Linked DNA regions of Homo sapiens: region 1 is linked to region 2. Evidence: fine-mapped QTL for protein levels in blood plasma. A gene starts in region 2. The other region holds a variant in brackets. All regions are shown on one strand. Distances are between the middles of the regions.

Region 1 (2,913 bases), 65 kb before region 2:
CCAGCGAGCCGAGATCGCGCCACTGCACTCCAGCCTGGCGACAGGGCGAGACTTCATCTCAATAAATAAATAAATAATAACAAATGTTGGCAAGGATGTGGAGAAATTGGAATCCTTGTGCATTGCTGGTGGGAATATAAAATGGTGCAGTTGCTACAGAAAACCGTTTGGTAGTCCTCAAAAAAGTAAAAATAGAATGACCGTATGATCCAGAGATTCTACTTCCTGGGTATATACCCAAAAGAACTGAAAGTAGGATTCAAACAGATACTTGTATACCAATGTTCACTGCAGCACTATTCACAATGGCAACAGATGGAAACAACCCAAGTGTCCATTACGAATAGATGAATACACGGAATGTGGTCTAGACACACACACACACACACACACACACACACGAATATTACTCAGCAACAAAAAGGAATGCAGTACTGACATATACTACAGTATGGAGGAACGTTCAACATATGCTCAGTAAAATAAGTCAAAGAAGACAAATATTGTATGCCTCCATTTATCATTTATGTGAGATGCCTAGAATAGTCAAATTTACAGAGATGAGGTAGAATGGTGGTTACCAGGGACTGTGGGGATGGGAGTGATTGTTAAATGGGTAGAGAGTTTCAGTTGGGATGAGCAAAGAGTTCTGGAGACAGACGGTGGTGATGGCTACACAGCAATGTGAATGCACTTAATGCCACTGACCTGTACACTTAAAAATGGTTAAAATGGGCCAGGCGCAGTAGCTCACGCCTGTAATCCCAGCACTTTGGGAGGCCAAGGCAGGAGGATTGCTTGAGGCCAGGAGTTCGAGACCAGCCCGGGGCAGCATAGTGAGACCCCAGCTCTACAAAAAATTAAAAAAAAAAAAATTAGCCAGGCACAATAGCACATGCCTTGTAATCCCAGCTACTCAGGACACTAAGCAGGAGGATCACTGGACTCCAGGAGTTCGAGGCTGCAATGAGCTAGGATTGCACCACTGCACTCCAGCCTCCGTGACAAAGTGAGACCCCCCCCATCTCTAAAAAAAAAAAAATTTTTTTTTAATTTTAAAAACTGGTTAAAATGGTACGCTTTGTTACTTTTTTTTTTTTTTTTTTTTTTGAGACAGAGTCTTGCTCTGTCGCCAGGGTGGAGTGCAGTGGCGTGATCTCAGCTCACTGCAACCTCTGCCTCCCTGGTTCAATTCTCCTGCCTCAGCCTCCTGAGTAGCTGGGATTACAGGAACACGCCACCATGACCAGCTAATTAGTTGTATTTTTAGTAGAGACGGGGTTTCACCATGTTGGCCAGGATGGTCTTGATCTCCTGACCTCGTGATCCACCTACCTCGGTCTCCCAAAGTGCTGGGATTATAGGCGTGAGCCACCGCGCCCAGCCTGTGTTACATACATTTTATCACAATAGAAATATTTGAGAAATTTGACCAGATGCAGTGGCTCACACCTGTAATCCCAGCACTTTGGGAGGCCGAGGCAGGCAGATCACCTGAGGTCAGGAGCTCAAGACCAAGCCTGGCCAACATGGTGAAACCTCGTCCTACTAAAAATACAAAAATTAGC[C/T]GGGTGCGGTGGCGGGCGCCTGTAGTCCCAGCTACTAGGGAGGCTGAGGCAGGAAAATCACTTGAACCCGGGAGGCAGAGGTTGTGGTGAGCCGAGATCGCGCCACTGCACTCCAGCCTGGGCAACAGAGTGAGACCCTGTCTCAAAAAAAGAAAAGAAAAGAAAAGAAGAGAAAGAAGAGAAGAGAAAAGAAAAGGAAGAAAGATTTGAGAAATTTTCTTGCATGTGCAGATGTGTACGTACAACAGTGGAAACATTTTTTTACATAGCCATGACATCTTTTAAATGCCATTGTCAGGCTGGGCGCAGTGGCTCATGCCTGTAATCCCAGCACTCTGGGAGGGCAAGGTGGGTGGACTGCTTGAGCCCAGAGTTCACGACCAGCCTAGTCAACATGGTGAAACCCTACTTCTACCAAAAAAAAAAAAAAAAAATTAGCCAGGCATGGTGGTGTGCGCCTGTAGTCCCAGCTACTCAGGAGGCTGAGGTGGGAGGATCACACCCAGGAGACCGAGGCTGCAGTGAGCCGTGATTACACCATTGCATTCCAGCCTAGGTGACAGATTAAGACCCTGTCTAAAAAAAAAAAAAAAAAAAAAAAGCCACTCTTTCAATGTCAATGTGTAGCCTACTGAAGAAAATAGTTTCATAAATTAATGGATTTAAAGGTAAAAAGGGTTAAAGTGGTAAATTTTATGTTATATGCATTTACAACATAAAAACAACACCCCTGAAGCCTAGTAATATACCATTTATAAGAGAAAACGCTAAAACATAAAGAAATGGGAAAAAGTAAAAGGACAGGAAAAATGTATCATGCAAACACTAACCAAAAGCAAGCTTCTGCTCCTTCAGGAAGACAGGGCCACAGGCGCTGCAGAGCTGTGGTCTGCCCGCTCCTGCTCCTGCCTCACCACTGTTTGCTCTGGCTGAGGAACAAGTTGGTCAGGAAGGCTCGCAGCAGCCATGGCATGCATTTATTTATTTATTTATTTATTTATTTATTTATTTATTTATTTATTTTTTGAGACAGTCTCGCTCTGTCGCCCAGGCTGGAGTGCAGTGGCATAATCTCAGCTCTCTGCTACTTCTGCCTCCCAGGTTCAAGCAATTCTCCTGCCTCAGCCTCCAGAGTAACTGGGACTACAAGCGCCCGCCACCACACCCAGCTAATTTTTGTATTTTTAATAGAGACGGGGTTTCACCGTGTTGGCCAGGATGGTCTCGAACTCCCGACCTCAGGTGATCTGCCTGCCTCGGCCTCCCAAAGTGCTGGGATTACAGGCGTGAGCCACCGCACCCGGCCCACCCACGGCTTTAAAGATACCTGAAGAAAACCTGCGGA
Region 2 (2,913 bases):
GACAGCATTTCACCATGTTGGCCAGGCTGGTCTCGAACTCCTGACCTCATGATCCACCGACCTTGGCCTCCCAAAGTGCTGGGATTACAGGCATGAGCCACCATGCCTGGCATGTAGGTAATTTAGTGTCTGGAAGAATGAAAGCAATGGGGAGCTATGGCAGAGCTTGAGGAAGGGGGAAATGGCAGGTACCCTTCATCTAAAAGGTAGTTTCATAATAAAAGCTAATATTTGTAAAGCATTTCCATGCACCAGGTGATGGGCTGAATACCTCACATGGGTTTCCCTTCTCAACAACCCTAAGAGGTTTACTGTTATCAACCTGGTTTCACAGAAGGGGAAATTGAAGCTTGGAGAACTCAAATCCCTCGCCCAGAGTCACCCAGCTCATAAGTGATAAAGCTGGGCTTCAGAGGCATTCAGATGCCAGAGACAAGCTCTTGATCCTTCCTTGCCCATTGAAGGCCCTGGCCTCTGTGTGGCATGAATGATGCCCATGAGACGTACTGGGGAAAGGAAAAGAAGGGGAGAAGCTGGGGAAACTGAGGAAGGCTGGCAGGAGCCCAGGTGTGATGGCGCCAGCAGCACATATCTCAAGCACCTGCTCCGAGCCAGGCTCGTGGGCACTTAGACACAGCCCATACCCTGCCCTCAAGGATCACACAGCTCACGATCACTCTAGTGCCCATGGGCATAAGACCTAGCACCAGGTAGGCACTAGACTAGACTGCCCTGAGACTGCACACACTGCACCATACACATCCCCACCCAAGGGTTCCCGGGAGGAGGAGCCAGGCCACTTACCGACTGTGTGCTCTTCAGCTTTGTACTTATGCTCCTTGGGGGCTTCCCAAGGTGGAATCTACAAGGGAGAGAAGAAGGCAGGGAACTGACTATAAGTCATAGCCTGCCACCGATCTGTTGCTAGTCTGCAGCTTCCTCTCACAGCCCAGAAATGCAGAGATTTCTTCCCAAGACCCAAACCCTTTCTACCTCCCCCCGTTGTCTTCTTAAGGCCCATCTCCCCCAGAAATGCAGGCTGTGCCCTTGTATCCACCCAGTCTGGTTGTCTGTCTCCTCTGCCTGGGCCTTCCGGGCTGGCCTCACCTTTCCACATAGGCCTCCTAGTCACCTGGACCCACAGGTCATGAGCAGAGGCCATGGCTCATGGCTGTGATAGCGACCCCCCAGAACAATCCTGGGACAATCCTGGTTCCCACAGCACTCACCGAAAGTGTTGACTCCAAGCTCACCAGCAGGAACCCCAGGAGCAGCAGAGCCCTCATGGCATCCGTCCGTTGGTCCAGCTGCCTATCCAGGAGTCCAGATCAATAGGACTGGCCAAAGGTCTTGGAAATAGAGATTGGTCAAGCTGCCCTCCTGAGCCTGGTGGGGCACAGGCTGTTTGTGGAAAGCCAAGTGGAGCAACTTCCTTGGTCACCCCTTGAGGGCCGGAAAGTTGGGAGTTTGTGGGTGGGGGTGAAATGAAGAGCTGGGCTCCTCCTCTCTTTTCTAGATAGTGGGACTGGAAGCAGAAGAAGGGACATTCTTATGCTCTGGGTCCTGTGGAGATCAGGAGGTTAAGGAGATCAAAGATCATGGGGATCTTGGAGTCCACTGTGAAGTGTGTTCATTTTCTATTGTCATGTAACAAACTACCATAAACTCAGCATCTTACAACAATACCCACTTTTAATTTTCTTTTTTTTTTTTTTTTTTTTGAGACGGAGTCTCGCTCTGTCGCCCAGGCTGGAGTGCAGTGGCGCAATCTCCGCTCACTGCAAGCTCCGCCTCCCGGGTTCACGCCATTCTCCTGCCTCAGCCTCCCGAGTAGCTGGGACTACAGGAGCCCACCACCACGCCCAGCTAATTTTTTGTCTTTTTAGTAGAGACGGGGTTTCACCATGTTAGCCAGGATGGTCTCGATCTCCTGACCTCGTGATCCACCCGCCTCGGCCTCCCAAAGTGCTGGGATTACAGGCCTGAGCCACTGCACCGGGCCATGTGTCGCCTTTTAAGAACTCACCTGACTAGGTCAGGCCCACCAAAGCCATTCTCCTTTTTTTTTTTTTTTTTGAGACAGAGTCTGGCTCTGTCACCCAGGCTGGAGTGCAGTGGCACGATCTTGGCTCACTGCAAGCTACGCCTCCCGGGTTCACGCCATTCTCCTGCCTCAGCCTCCTGGGTAGCTGGGAATACAGGCACCCGCCACCACGCCCAGCTAATTTTTTGTATTTTTAGTAGAGATGGGGTTTCACTGTGTTAGCCAGGATGGTCTCGATCTCCTGACCTCGTGATCTGCCCGCCTTGGCCTCCCAAAGTGCTGGGATTACAGGTATGAGCCACCATGCCTGGCCCTGCCATTCTCCTTATTTTAAGGTCAAACAATTTGGGACTTAAATTACATGTGCAAAATTCTTTCACAGAAGCATCTACATTCATGTTTGACAGAATAACTGGGAGGTGTGCAAACACCAGGGGTAGAGATCTTGGGGCCATCTTAGCATTCTACCAACCACAGGAAGTGAGGCAAGAAAGCAAATGATTTAATGAGAAAAGTGCTAAACCAAGGGGCACTAAGATGTGCAGCTGGAACATGAGAAGAAGACGGGGTGCACATGTGCTGCCCAGCATCTGTCCTGGTTCGGTAATGACACTTTGATTTTTCCTTTAGCAACGACTCCTCTCTTACTTCTTCCATGGGCTCTAGTGCTGCCAACTCTACCCTCAGAGCTAGGGCTAGAGATGTGGCCTAGGTCTGGTCAATCAGAGCATGACATCTCTAATCCACAGTGATTGGTTCAGAGATAAGCATATACACAATTTAGGCCAATTAAAGTGCTAGCTTGGGACTTTTGCCAGAACTTTTGGGAAAGCAAAAAAGTTGCACTGGGGTTACTAAGCACAGAGCAT

Alleles and levels. Alleles are on the strand shown, and positions count from the first base shown. The strength of an association depends on the size of the effect and on how common the allele is.
As copies of T replace C in region 1, the plasma level of the protein whose gene starts at base 1,323 in region 2 goes down (moderate association).

The links. PIP is the posterior inclusion probability: the model's chance that the variant is causal. The UK Biobank Pharma Proteomics Project read protein levels with antibody pairs (Olink). The fine-mapping took linkage between variants from a reference panel, not from the people measured, so its PIPs are less certain.
Region 1: its variant is fine-mapped to the plasma level of the F12 protein (UK Biobank, PIP above 0.99).

Annotation. Positions count from the first base shown.
Region 1 is chr5:177,343,194-177,346,106 of GRCh38, forward strand. The region is part of intron 2 of LMAN2 (lectin, mannose binding 2); the gene reads right to left. It also overlaps the pseudogene RPS20P17. Among named protein-coding and RNA genes, the nearest start is that of LMAN2, 7.0 kb to the right of the region's middle. The variant C/T (reference allele first, on the strand shown) is at 1,569.
Region 2 is chr5:177,408,242-177,411,154 of GRCh38, forward strand. F12 (coagulation factor XII) reads right to left here and starts at 1,323. Exons shown (of 14, transcript NM_000505.4): 1 at 1,230-1,323; 2 at 805-862. The coding sequence starts at 1,286.